Homo sapiens: one gene and its partners. The protein of the gene in region 4 purifies or fractionates together with the protein of the main gene of each other region. This does not show direct contact. Each region holds a gene or a part of one and is shown on either strand. Other genes may lie near its edges.

Evidence for each region.
Region 1: the proteins of GLB1 (region 4) and RDX fractionate together in Homo sapiens (co-fractionation; one large-scale study listed by BioGRID). This does not show direct contact.
Region 2: the proteins of GLB1 (region 4) and ZC3H14 purify together in Homo sapiens (affinity purification with mass spectrometry; one large-scale study listed by BioGRID and IntAct). This does not show direct contact.
Region 3: the proteins of GLB1 (region 4) and DNAJC3 purify together in Homo sapiens (co-immunoprecipitation; one large-scale study listed by IntAct). This does not show direct contact.

Annotation. Positions count from the first base shown.
Region 1 is NC_000011.10:110,255,115-110,258,614, forward strand, and holds part of RDX (radixin), read right to left. Parts: intron 3,076-3,500; coding exon 2,992-3,075; intron 2,800-2,991; coding exon 2,653-2,799; intron 293-2,652; coding exon of another isoform or gene 272-292; coding exon 175-271; intron 1-174. UniProt on the Homo sapiens protein: Probably plays a crucial role in the binding of the barbed end of actin filaments to the plasma membrane.
Region 2 is NC_000014.9:88,569,537-88,573,036, reverse strand, and holds part of ZC3H14 (zinc finger CCCH domain-containing protein 14), read right to left. Parts: intron 1,954-3,500; coding exon 1,913-1,953; intron 1,008-1,912; coding exon 812-1,007; intron 460-811; coding exon 30-459; intron 1-29. UniProt on the Homo sapiens protein: RNA-binding protein involved in the biogenesis of circular RNAs (circRNAs), which are produced by back-splicing circularization of pre-mRNAs.
Region 3 is NC_000013.11:95,683,639-95,687,138, forward strand, and holds part of DNAJC3 (dnaJ homolog subfamily C member 3 precursor), read left to right. Parts: intron 1-3,500. UniProt on the Homo sapiens protein: Involved in the unfolded protein response (UPR) during endoplasmic reticulum (ER) stress.
Region 4 is NC_000003.12:32,996,147-32,999,646, forward strand, and holds the end of GLB1 (beta-galactosidase isoform a preproprotein), read right to left. Parts: intron 1,199-3,500; coding exon 899-1,198; 3' UTR 471-898; downstream 1-470.

The sequences.
Region 1 (3,500 bases), on a different chromosome or scaffold from region 4:
AATCTTTGGATTTTTATTAACATATTATTTCATCACTGGGAAAGCTGACCTATGGAAAGAGAATGGTCCTCAGAAGCAATTTAATAAATGAACACTGTTATTCTTCAAGTGATATCATGGGAAACTAGCAGATATTAAACAGTTAATACACAAAATATTAAAGAAATTACTTACAGGTGCCTTTTTGTCGATTGGCTTTATAACAAATTTTTTGTCATTAAATGAAATATTTCTGATTTCACTCCAGGGAAAACCAATTTTAGGTGTTAACCTTAAAAAATGAAAGCATCTCCTTAATTAAAGGCAGGAAACAATGAATAAAATTCCTGTTTAGGACCTAAACTGACTGAATGACCAATCTTAAGAGTTCCAGATTTTCAAAATGTATTAACTTATTCATAACTACAGTTGACCTTATCTTTTAAGGGGAAAACTGATAAATCATATAAAACAAACAACTGTCCAAAGATTTCATAAATGTGTCATGAACCTTAAAAGCAGTGTATTTTCCTAAAATTATCTAAAAAAACTACCTGGTGACCCAAGTGTAGAACTGAGCCTCCTGGGGTTTGAACTAGCTGTTCAGTTTTTATTGTTTGGATTCAAGCTACAACTACAGTTTAAATATGTGTAAGAAGTGGGAAGAAAAAAAAAGGCCTTTATAACTTCTCATGTGAATTACGGGCAAGTTACTGCAAATAAAAAAACAGTACTTCCTTCCTGTGTTTAATTTGAAAATGTCTGGATATTCACGAATATACTAAAAATACTTAATTTTCAGTATATTTTGAAAGAATCTTATGGTATATGAATTATATCTCAAAAATTTTAAACACTCACATACATAAATATTTGGATAAATGATAGAGATGGAATTCAAACTCTTGAGACTATACACAGCAGTTGACTCCGTTTTACCACCCTACACACAAAGATATAGGGAATCATATTGGAATAAGTGATTTTGTTTCTGCCTTTTCATGTATTTTACTGTTTCAGACTACCTATCAAATGCATCACTATTGTCCTATTGTCCTAATAACTAAGACTGAGAAATGATTTTGACACCTATACTGGCCAGAAGACATCTTTTAGCCAGGCTTCTGACAACACAGCATGAATTTTTACCTATTTATATTCCTTTTAGTTCTCAAGCAGAGTAGGTACTGCAGCACAGCAGAGTCTTTTCTACATAAAACATTCTTTACTCAATAAGCATATTAGAGGACCCTCTAATGGCCCCTGATATAAGTCAAAGTAACATGCTTAAAACGGAGACTGCAGGAATGCAACATAGTATTTTAGAGAACACTATGCTACGTTTATATGCTACTTTGAAAAATTCTAAAGCAATTGCCTCATATAATTCTCATAACACTCTTGTGAGGTAAGCCTGGAAGCTAATACAATAACTTTTTTAACATTTAAAAAAATTGCTCCAATATGTGCCAGAACCACCACCACCAAAAAAATTAAGAAGCCAGGCACAGTGGCTCACGCCTGTAATCTCAGCACTGGAGAAAGCAGAGGCGCAAGAATTGCTAGAGGCCAGGAGTTCAAGACCAGCCTGGGCAACATAGCAAGATCCCATTCTCTAAAACAAAAGAAAAAGATTCAGTTTACAAAAATTAGTCTTGAAGTCATTTTTGCTTTTCAAAAATTTCTCTTCTAAATGATATAACCTTCTAACTTGCTTTGTAATAAAAACATGAGAAGATATTAGGGTAAAAATAGTAAAATGCTCTTGTTTGGAATCACATATGCTTTGAAATTAGTATTTTATTAGATATCTGTAGTAATAAAAATTAAAATTCTGGAGCCAACCTAGAATAAAGAATAATGCCTTAGGAAAAGGCATTAATTACTGGCATAGACTTGCATGCTTATGTGGTATGGTAAATAAATTAAAGTCTAAGACAATTGAGTTATTAATCCTGAAAAGTAAGAGTCTGATGTATTTTATATTGCATGTGTATGTGTATAATATACCGTCTCTATATAGTATTTACCCATGTATTTGTATAGTACATATACATGTATATGTAAATATACATATATTATACATATAATAAAATATTGATGAATTATATATGTATAATAAAAAACTATTTGGTCAATTTCAAGATATAATTACAGTGTTCAATATGTGTAATACAGGGATATTCTATTGTATTAATGTCCAAACATATTTAAAACAATTCCTATATATAAATGTTCAAAAAAATCCTCTAAGATGTGATAGACATATTTATTAAATCCATTCTCTCATTGCTCCTGATTTCTTATGTATGTTCAATTTCAATCTATTTGTCAAGCATAATAGCATTTTAAAGAATTATTTCTCACCTATCGAGGGAGCAAATTTTAATTAAGTTACTAGACATAACTCACAAGAGCTAAAAGCAGCACAATTCAAATAAAAGTCAATCATCTCATTTGATAAATACACTGAAAAGTAGAACTCTGAAACTGCAAGGTGATAAGAAAATGGAGGTAAAATATCTACAAGTCTATGTGTCATTAATTCATCTTTTAGTTTGAAAATAGTAAGGGTAATCAAGACAAGAAACTACTTTGAAAAACAGGACATAAGATTAACGTCATTTAGACCACTGAACAATGACTAGTTCACTATGCAACTAATTTACTTACTTGTCGTCATGCTCATAAATATTCAGACCCAAAGCATCAACACCTAGCCACAATTCAGTTCCTTTTTTATTTTTTATTTCAAAATAGTTGACTCCATACATTTCTAGATCTTGTGCAATCTTCAGGTATTCCATCATAGAATCCTCCCTGTTGAAATAAAACTAAATGTAATATATTTAAGTAGGAGCATATCAAACTAAAGTTGCAAAATACCTGGAATTAAAAATTAGTACTTTACATAAGTCAAACAATCTTTTGGAAATAATGTAATAATAAATGTTACGACATGAAAATACTTTGAAGGAAAAAAGAAAACATAGAAAATAGCTACCCAAATACCTTAACATTCCTCTATGTTCTTCATGCCAGTTCTGTATTCTTTCTTCCCACTGTTCTTTTGTTAGTTTGTGTTGTTCCAATACACTAAGAGGACCAAAAAAAAAAAAAAATTATAATGACTTTAAGATTCAAAAGCATACACTTTAAAAGTAAAGAATCCTTTCAGTAACTTGACTGTGGTAGTTGTCAGACAATTAATACACATGATGAAATTGCATAGAACTAAATTACATACACACAGAAATGAGTGCAGGTAAAACTGATGTAATCTGAATAAGGTGGCTAGATTGTACCAATGTCAATATCTTGTTTGTAATATTGTACTGTAGTTACACAAGATGTTACCATCAGGGAATGCTGGGAGAAGGATACCAGGGATCTCTTTTTTTTACAACTGCATAATAATCAGTAATTATCTCAAAGTTAAGTGTCTAGGATCCTTAAATTCCTTGAAATAATACTTGCTCCATAAAGTGATTACAAAGATAGCTTATAGGAACCCAAACAGT
Region 2 (3,500 bases), on a different chromosome or scaffold from region 4:
TAAGCCAGAATTTAAAAGTACATACAAACCTCCATACTCATTTTCTCCGAGTTGTTTCTAAAGAACGGACTATACGTTTCTTCTAAGCTGTTAAGCACCTCTGGTTCACACAAACGTCCTGTTTCATATACCCAACTACTCTGCATATCAAGCTGCTTGGCAGCATGAATACTATTCTGCTGCTGTTGAAATTGCAACCTGTTTAAATGAACACCACTATCTGCATTTCTACTTGCAGGTGGTCGATAAATTTCAATAGAAGGGCGAGAAGAACCATATGTAAGTGTCACTGTAGGTTTTTTCTGAGATAAGGGATTCTCCTGCACAAAGTTGAGGTCTTCGTCAATGAGATCATCTGGTTCTGGCTTAATATCAATCACATCTTCAGAGGGTGCTGGCTCCCTCAAAGGTTTCACTGTTGACATTAGTCGGGTTGCAGCTCCATCATCGTAAGTCTGTCTATTTAAAAGAACAACAAAATGTATTACAGCCAAATTAGGGCAATTATCACCAAATCTTTAAAGAATGTTTACTTGAAAAATTTCAATGAAAAAACTGAGGATACTCCCTTTACATATTCCATTCAAAACTGCTTTGAAATTGCACTTTCTTTCAACTTTGATTTACTAAATTTGTGATAAAAGATAATCATACTTAGATCTTATCCATTATTTTATTCAAAAAACTACTCACGATCACTTCATTGTTTCTAAAAATTGCTGAGAACAGCAAACTGAAAGATATAAAAACTAATATAAATGTCACATACACAGAGCCATCTGCCCCCAGCAGGTCTACACCAGACTCTTACCTGACATTTGTGGTTTTTGACTCCTGCGAACTTGTAGAAACTCTGGAATCTCTTTTTTCAGGTCTCGCGCTAGGAATGGCAAGTGGTGGCACTGCAGCTTCATGCCTCCTCTCATCTCCCCGACTGAAATTGCTCTTGTTTGAAGGCACGTTACTATCAAAGATGTTGGTATCAGAAGACTTCAGACTAGAGGGTTCTGAAAAGAAAAATACAGTCCTTTTAATCTATTTTTATTTCTTATTTTTATTTATTTATTTATTTTTGAGATGGAGTCTCGCTCTGTCGCCAGGCTGGAGGGCAGTGGCGCGTTCTCGGCTCCCTGCAACCTCCAAATCCCTGGTTCAAGCGATTCTCCTGCCCCGGCCTCCCAAGTAGCTGGGATTACAGGCATGTGCCACGATGCCTGGCTAATTTTTGTATTTTTAGTAGAGACGGAGATTCACCATGTTGGTTGGCCAAGATGGTCTCCATCTCCTGAGCCCATGATCCGCCCACCTTGGCCTCCCAAAATGCTGGGATTACAGGCGTGAGCCACCGTGCCCGGCCATCTATTTTTATTACTTTAAGTCGTTTCCTTCCTCATCACCAATTCAAAAGCAGTATGTTTATTGTAGAAAATTTTAAAAATATAATAAAAATCACCAATTATCTCAAAGGTGATTTTTCGGGGGAAGAGCATATATACACATTTTTTAAAACATGTATCTTATGCGTGTATATTCTGTTATTCTTCCACAACATTATTTTTAATAGTTAAATATTATTCCACACATGGTAATACAACAATTTCGTTTATTATGACTGAACTTTTAAATTGTTTTCAATTATAAAATACTGAAATATCCTTGAGGCTAAATCTTTGCACATATATGTAATTATTTCCTTCGGATAAAGTGCACTGCTCCCTCTCCCACACTTAAATTATCTTTGAATTATGTTAAATTTACTGCTCTTAAGTTCATAAAAGTATGTGCTTTCTAAAAAAGTTCAAATGAACCGTTTTGAAATTGATGGGTTTTTCCCAAAGCACTATGACTTTAGAAAGAAACAAATCATATGCCATAGCAAGCAGAAATTAAAAAAAAAAGTTATGAATCTTACCAGTTGTAACAGAGCGAAGTTTATCTAATACACCATGAAGCCTGAGGAAAAAAACAAAAAACAAAAATAAACCTTCTGTTAAGAAAGATTTCATTTCAACTGTCACTCTAAATTTATGACATTATATTCAGAGATAATTTTTTAAATTTTTTTATATTTTTATTATTTTTAAATAGAGATGGGGTTTCACTGTGTTGTCCAGGCTGGTCTTGAAGTCCTGGACTTGAGAGAACCACCTGCCTCAGCCTCCCAAAGTGTTGAGATTACGGGCGTGAGCCACCGCACCTAGCTGAGATAAATACTGATAAACTGTATTTAGTGAATAAATGGTATGAACTTTCAAACTTCACATTTTTAAAAAAGGGCTTTGTATAAATCCTACAGAAGTCAATAAAAAATTGTATTTTTTTCTTCACTGTTTTCAACATCTAGCCTCTGCAAAAATATGGGAAAGAATATCATCTGACCAGTCTTAGTCTACAAAATATGTCACCCTGTTTGTAAGTACTAAAGATTTACTGTAGCTTACAGTAAAACAAGTATCATAAACATGTAATATTGCTTATTATTACCACCATTTAAGCAGCTTATATTAACTGCTTAAACTAGATGGTGTCTTGGACAACTTAATTCTGAGAGGTTAAAACAAGTTATAATCTCAAACTATGCTATATCATTTCACTCTATTACTTTCAAAACTGATGCTGTAAGGCTGTAATCTTGCTTGTAACATAACCTGTTTTGGTAGTTATAAATGAGGTACTTTGCCTTACATCCCTTCCCAGTACCTCTCAAAATATGCCAGAAACCTCATGTTTCAATGAGAACCCTAGTCACATGCTACTGTCCCCACGGACACAATTACTTCAAGGCTCCAAATAATCACAATAGTCTGTTTGGGGCTGGTGTTAATGAACACTAACTTAAGAAAGCAAAGTGCCAAAATGGGGACATCACCCTTTGCTTCACTACATGTTAAAGAACTCAATTTATGGCCAGATGAGAATGTTGAATTAATTTGGTTTTAAATTCATTTGGTAGTCTGTTTTAAAAATCTAAGTATTCTATCAAGTTATCGGAGAAAAGGATCTACTCGGTCGCTTTAGAAAAAAAAATAGTACTCACAATAATGGTAATTTTCCCAGTCAAAAGACCCACAGTCTTTTTTTGTGGGGGGCTGGGAGGGAATAACCTCTGGGGACAAATTGTAACAAATGGGTTGGGTCACCCACAGTGAGGCAGCAGTGTATCATAACAACTGATGACCACTATACAATGTTCTTCAAATTTGTGCAATGTATAAACCCAGAGAATTCTGTGCAGAATTTCAAGACGGTTGATAAGCATACAGTTGCCTACTTGGGCAAAAACACCTTGAAGACGACCTTTGGTATAAAGGCAAGAACTTAACCAGGCTCATCTCCCCACTCAGTGCCTCCTCTTGCACTCAAATTCGGCAGGCCACTTGCTCACTTCTGCTACATCATCACCTTTCACGGTAACTGGTAGTTCCTAGCCTGAGAAGCCTAATAAAGTATTTCGTCTGTCTATTCTCAGCTACATCATTATCCTCCAGCCCTCATCCTCA
Region 3 (3,500 bases), on a different chromosome or scaffold from region 4:
AGTTCCGGCTGGGCACTGTGGCTCACGCCTGTAATCCCAGCACTTTGGGAGGCCGAGGTGGATGGATCACGAGGTCAGGAGTTCAAGATCAGCCTGGGCAAGATGGTGAAACCCCGTCTCTACTAAAAATACAAAAAAAAAAAAACTTAGCCTGTTGTGGAGGTGGGCGCCTGAAATCCCAGCTACTTGGGAGGCTGAGGCAGAGAATTGCTTAAACCTGGGAGGCAGAGGATGAAGTGAGCCGAGATTGCACCACTGCACTCCAGCCTGGGTGACAGAGCAAAACTCCATCTCAAAAAAAAAAAAAAAAAAATTACCCAGTTCCGGGTATTTCTTTATAGCAATGTGAGAATGGACTAATACAGAAAATTGGTACTGGGAGTGGGGCATTGCTATAAAGATACCTGAAATTGTAGAAGGAAGCAACTTTGGAATGGGGTAATGGGCAGAGGTTGGGACAGTTTGGAGGACTCAGAGGAAGACAGGAAGAGGAACGAAAGTTTGAAACCTCCTAGAGACTTGTTGAATGGTTGTGACCAAAATGCTGATAGTGGTATAGACAGTGAAGTTCAGGCTGAGGAGGGCTCAGAATGACCGCAGATGAGGAACTTATTGGGAACTGGAGTAAAGGCCACTCTTGCTATGCTTTAGTAAAGAGACTGGTGGCATTGTACCCCTGGTCTATGGATCTGTGGAACTTTGAACTTGAGAGAGGTGATTTAGGGTATCTGGTGGAAGAAACTTCTAAGCAGCAAAGTGTTCAAGATGTGACCTGGCCTCTAGCAGCCAGTGCTCATATTCATGAACAAAGAAATGATGTAAAATTGGAACTTACATTTAAAAGGGAAACAGAGCAGAAGAGTTGGAAAATTTTCAGTCTGACCATGTGGTAGAAAAGAAAAACCCATTTATAGGGGAGTAATTCAAGCAGACTGCATGAATTTGCATAAGTAAAGAGGAGCCAAGTGCTGATAGCCAAGACAATGGGAAAAAGGGCTCCAAGGCATCTCAGCGACCTTTAAGGCAGCTCCTTCTATCATAGGCCCAGAGACCTAGGAGGGAAGAACAGTTTCCTGGGCCAGGGCCCTGCCAGCCTCAGGACACTGCTGCCTGCATCCTAGTTACTCCAGCTCCAGCCATGGCTGAAAGGGGCCCAGATATAGCTCAGGCCTTCAGACGGTGCCAGCCCAAACCCTTGGAAGATTCCACATGCTGTTAAGCCTGCAGGTGCTGAAAGCCAAGAATTGAGGCTTGGGAGCCTCAGCCTAGATTTCAGATATATGGAAAAGCCTGGATGTTCAGGCAGAAGGTTGCTGCAGGGGCAGAGCCCTCATGGAAAAATCTCTACTAGGGCAGTGCAGAGGGGAAATGTGGGGTTGGAGCCCCCAACAGAGTCCCCACTGGGGCACTGCCTAGTGGAGCTGTGAGAAAGACCACCATCTTTCAGACCCCAGAATGGTAGATCCGCTGACAGCTTGCACCATGCACCTGGAAAAGCTGCAGCCACTCATTGCCAGCCCTTGACAGCAGCCGCGTGGGCTGAGCCCTGCAAAGTCACAGGAGTGGCACTGCCCAAGGCCTTGGGAGCTCACCCCTTGCTGCAATATGCCCTGGATGTGAGACATGGAGTCAAAGGAGATTATTTTGGAGCTTTAAGATTTAATAACTGCCCTGCTGGGTTTTAGCACGTGCATGGGGCCCGTAGCCTTTTTCTTTTGGCCGGTTTTACCCTTTTGGAATGGGACTATTTACCCAATGCCTATAATCCCATTGTATCTTGGAAGTAATTAACTTGTTTTTGATTTTATAGGCTTATAGGTGGAAGGGACTTGGCTTGTCCCAGATGAGACTTTGGACTTTTGAGTTAATGCTGGAATGAGTTAAGACTTTGGGGGCTGTTGAGAAGGGATGATTGTATTTTGTAATGTGAGAACATGATATTTTGGAGGAGCTGGGGCGGAATGATATGGTTTGGATCTGTGCCCCACCCAAATCTTATGTTGAATTGTAATCCCTAATGTTGGAGTTGGGGCTTGGTGGTAGGTTTTTTGTTTTTTTTTAGAAATCTCCATATTGTTTTCCATAGTGGTTGAACTAATTTACATTGCTGCCACCCATATATGTGTTACAATTTCTTCACCTCCATGCTAACATCTATTTTTTTTTAAGCTTTTTAGTAATAGCCACTCAGACTTGTGTAAGATGATTGATATTTCATTGTGGTTTTAATTTGCATTTCTCTGATGATTAGTGATGAACATTTTTTCATGTTTGTTGGCTGCTTGTATGTCTTCTTTTGAGAAATGTCTCTTAATGTCCTTTGCCCACTTTTTTTTTTTTTGAGACAGAGTCTTGCTCTGTCGCCCAGGCTGGAATGCAGTGGCACGATCTTGGCTCACTGCAAGCTCCGCCTCCCAGGTTCACGCCATTCTCCTGCCTCAGCCTCCTAAGCAGCTGGGACTACAGGTGCCTGCCACCATGCCCGGCTAATTTTTTGTATTTTTAGTAGAGACAGGGTTTCACTGTGCTAGCCAGAATGGTCTTGATCTCCCGACCTTGTGAGCCACCCGCCTTGGCCTCCCAAAGTGCTGGGATTACAGGCGTGAGCCAGTGCGCCTGGCCCTTTGCCCACTTTTTAATGGGGTTCTTTGTTTTCTTCTTGTTGAGTTGTTTGAGTGTCTTGTAGATTCTGGATATTAGTCCTTTGTCGGAGGCATAATTTGCAAATGTTTTCTCTCATTCTGTAGTTTGTCTCTTTGCCCTGTTGATTATCTTTTGATGTGCAGAAGCTTTTTAGTTAAGTCCCATTTGTTTATTTTTGGTTTTGTTGCATTTGTGTTTGGGGTCTTCGTCATAAGTTGTTTGCCTAGGCCAATGTCCAAAATGTTTAATCTATCTTGAGGTAGTTTTTGTATATGCTGGGAGACAGAGATCCAGTTTCTTCTGCATATGGCTAGCCAATTTTCCCAGCACCATTTATTGAATTAGGGTGTCCTTTCCCTGTTGTTTATATTTGTCAGCTTTGTCAAAGATCAATCTGTTGGATGTAAGTATGTGGTTTTATTTCTGGGGTTCTCTATTGTAGTCCATTGATCTGTGTGCGTATTTTTGTACCAGTACCATGCCATTTTAGTTACTATAGCCTTGTAGTATAATTTGAAGTCAAGTAATGTGATGCCTCTGGATTTGTTCTTTTTGGTTAGGATTACTTTGGCTATTCATGCCCTTTTTTGGTGCTGTATGGACTTTAGAATTGTTTTTCCTAGTTCTCTGAAAAATGACATTGGTGATTTGATAGGAATTGTGTTGAATCTACAGATTACTATGGGCAGTATGGTTATTTTAATGATAGTCTCCAAATCCATGAGCCTGGGATGTTTTTGTGTTTATTTATGACATATATGATTTGTTTCATAAGTGTTTTGTAGTTCTCATGGAGATCTTTCACCTCCTTGGTCAGTGTTTTCCTAGGTATTTTATTTTTTTGCATATGGCTTTTG
Region 4 (3,500 bases):
TAAACATAAACTCAGAACTGTGCATGGTGTAGAACAAGTCCTCAACAAATGAGAGCTACTGCTCCATGTCAGGACAGGAATATCAGAAACACCACATCCTTTCCTATCTGTGCACATACACAGCACACACACACGTGCATGCCTGACTACTGACATGTGTATAGGCCTGTACTGTGTGAATATGTGAAGTTCTTATGTTGAAACACACAAAACGGGATCCAATTTAAGGTAATCTGTTTTTTCATGTATCAAAAAATTTGCATATAAGTATAGATCTCTCACCATTTTAGTGGCTAAAATACTATGCTTCTATATAGATATACCATACTATGTACACTGTGCAACTGTTAATCATTTAGATTGTTTGCATAATTGTTTTGAGCTGTATTTATAGGTTATCTAGTCCAAAAGCAAGTCAAATAACGATCAGAAAAGCAGCAGTCCACAGATCAAACCAAGACTATTTTCCATCCTTTTGAACTTCAAGTTAGTGAAGTGGTTTATTCAGCCCACTCAAGTCTAGTTATGATTTAAGTCAGACCATATAATTCAATACCTGCACATTAAAAACAGTGACATCATCATTTGAGTACAAATTTTATTTAACAAAAAGGTAACATGATTCTTCCAAAATAAAAATCACTACCACCTTTAAAGCTTCCATTCCAGCCCTGCAGATATGTATGCACGTTACTGTGCTGTCAGCCCCTCACACATTCCAGGTGGTCCCTGAAGGTGGGGCTTTGGCACTGCAGGGATGCAGGGAAACCTCAGGTGAAAATGCACATCCTAAATTCCTTTTCCATTTCCACATTCCAATCAGTGAAATGTGGCATGACAGGGAGGATCTGTGAGGTATGTTCAGGGTAGAATCCCTCAAAGACACAGGCTTTCATCATCATACATGGTCCAGCCATGAATCTTTGTTTTTTTGCGGGGGTGGGGGCATGAGTCTTTTTTCAACAGGTTTGGAGGGATGATCGTAGGTCACAGATGAGCCAATAACTGGCCTGTCCACGAACGTCACAGCACATAGTTCTGGATCATCACTGCTGCAGGGTGCCCACTCCAGTTCCAGCACGGTGATGGTGTTTGGGGCCGAGGTCATCAGGATGTGCTGGGGCACAAACAAGGTCAACTGAGGGCCCCGGGCTGGCCAATAGCGGCCAAGGTTAAAGCCATTAATCCAGACCTGGCCCTGGAGAGAGAGAGACAGAGAACCATCAACCCCAGATGCACCGAAAGCCCTGAGGAAGGTGGGGGCCCTGATGTAGGGCAGGCCAGCAGCAATGGAGGAAAGAAATGCCCCCAGAAAGGCGAGGCTGACAGCCAGGCCCATGCCAGCCTTGGTTTTAGCTTCTTGCTGGGATAACTGGCCAAGGTGGGAAGAAGGTGGATGCCCCCATCCACCTTCTTTGGGGCAACAAAAACTTGCCCCAAAGACCCACTCCTGCTTCAGGAAAATACAGGTTTGGTCCCTCTGACGGGCTTCAGTGGCCACAGATGTTGGTACCAGAGAACAGTGTGGAAATTTCTGAATTTCATCCTGGTTCCCAGGTGCTGCCTGTACCCACAGACCAGCCTCTCCCTGACTTTTCTGTACACAGAAGACAACTGCTGAACTGCTTCCTTAAATAGATCTTTTCCTTCTTTGTTCTCCTTTCCCAGAGGCAGGTCTTGACCTCACTATCTGCTGTACACCTGGTGAACACAGGGAACAGAGGACTCCAGGGCCTGCATCCTGAGGTCAGACAGGTACCAGGAGTGGTCCCCAAAACAACCCCTCAAGAGGGATAGGGGGGTTTGGGGTGAGGGAGAGGAAGAGGCTTATCCAGTTGGGTGTCTATATTACTGCTATGTTCTAAGGACTCTTACAGGCACCCTCAGAGTTAGGGTGTGGACTCCATGTTTGGTTCAGGAGCAGAGGTGATGCTATAGGTTGCATAAACAATTTCTGTGAGTAGGGGAAGCTGCTTCCCATAACAAAACTGAAAGTGGAGGATAAACTCCTAAAAAACAGGGACCATGTTTAGGTCTGTCTACACAGCCTCTCTGTATGTGCTAAAATTTGCTCAAAGGGGCTGAGTGCAGTGGCTCATGCCTGTAATCCCAGAACTTTGGGAGGCCAAGGCAGGCAGATCACCTGAGGTCAGGAGTTCGAGACCAGCCTGGCCAACATGGTGAAACCCCGTCTCTACTAAAAATACAAAAATTAGCCAGGTGTGGTGGCACATGCCTGTAATCCCAGTTACTCAGGAGGCTGAGGCAAGAGAATCACTTGAACCCAGGGAGGCAGAGGTTGCAGTGAGCTGAGATTGCGCCACTGCACTCTAGCCTTGCGCAGTGACAGAGCAAGACTCCGTCTCAAAAAAAAAAAAAAAAGATTTGCTCAAAGCTCAAAGGCTAGGATCAACAGCTGGCTGAATAGATGGACCATTCTATTACAAAGAAAGAAAGTGAAGATGGGGAGATCACATACACGCAAAAGAAAGAGAAAATCTGGGAGAAGAAAGGAAAACATAAAGGGAGAAGGAAGAGGAAAGAGGAATGGAAGAAGGGAGGGAGGCAGGAAAGAAACTGTGACCTACAATGGCCCAGATATCCTAGGAGACAGCCTGGAGGAGGCCCAGCCATGGCTGACACCTGCTGAGCCCTAATCCTCATCACGTTCTGCAACACAACTCTGCTGCTCACCCCAGGGCTCCTCAGTCTTCTTACGTTTGGGTATTTTTCAGCCTCCAAGTGTCCCCTTTACTTTAGATCCTTCTGAATTTCCTACCTGAGTTCGTATCTGTGTCCTGCCACTTACTAGCTGTCTGACCTTGGGCAGGTCTCAACTCAATTTTTCATACCAGTCATTGGGGACAATGATGATGAAGGAACAGTGTGTGGCCTGTAAGCGGTAGCACTCCTTACATGATTAAAGTGAAAAGATGTTGGTGTTCCAATGCCTACAAAAGAAGGGGGTCCGTGATTAAAAACCACCTGTCTGTTGGATTAAGTCATTTAGAAAGAGGACGACAGTTTCACAGTTCTCAGAACTATTTCACTCTTGTTTTTACCCTGGGATATGTTATCTCATTCCATCCTAAAAGGTATATACAATGACAGCTTTAGCAGGTTTTTATCAGCTTAAAATCTGCCGGTGCCTTGTTTTTGCAGTATTAGAGAACAGTAGCACTTTACTTTTGCGGTCAAGGGGGAAGACAGAGAAGTGGGAGGGCATTACGAGCAGCAGCCAAGGAATGGCACGCACCACACAGGCTTCATGCTATGGTCAGGACACAGGCCAAGCCAACTCTTGACCAAATCGCAGGTGAACAAAGTGGAGGTTTGGTCCTTTCTCAAACCTCAAGTTCCATTTCATAAGCATCCAAGAGATGGGCCCTCACATGCCGGGTGGACTGTGCACCTGGTAGGTAAGCTGGGAATTGTTTTCCCTGGATCCCCTTCCCTGGATGGTTCTGGGTTAGCGTTGGTCAGAAGAGGCCCTTGCTTGA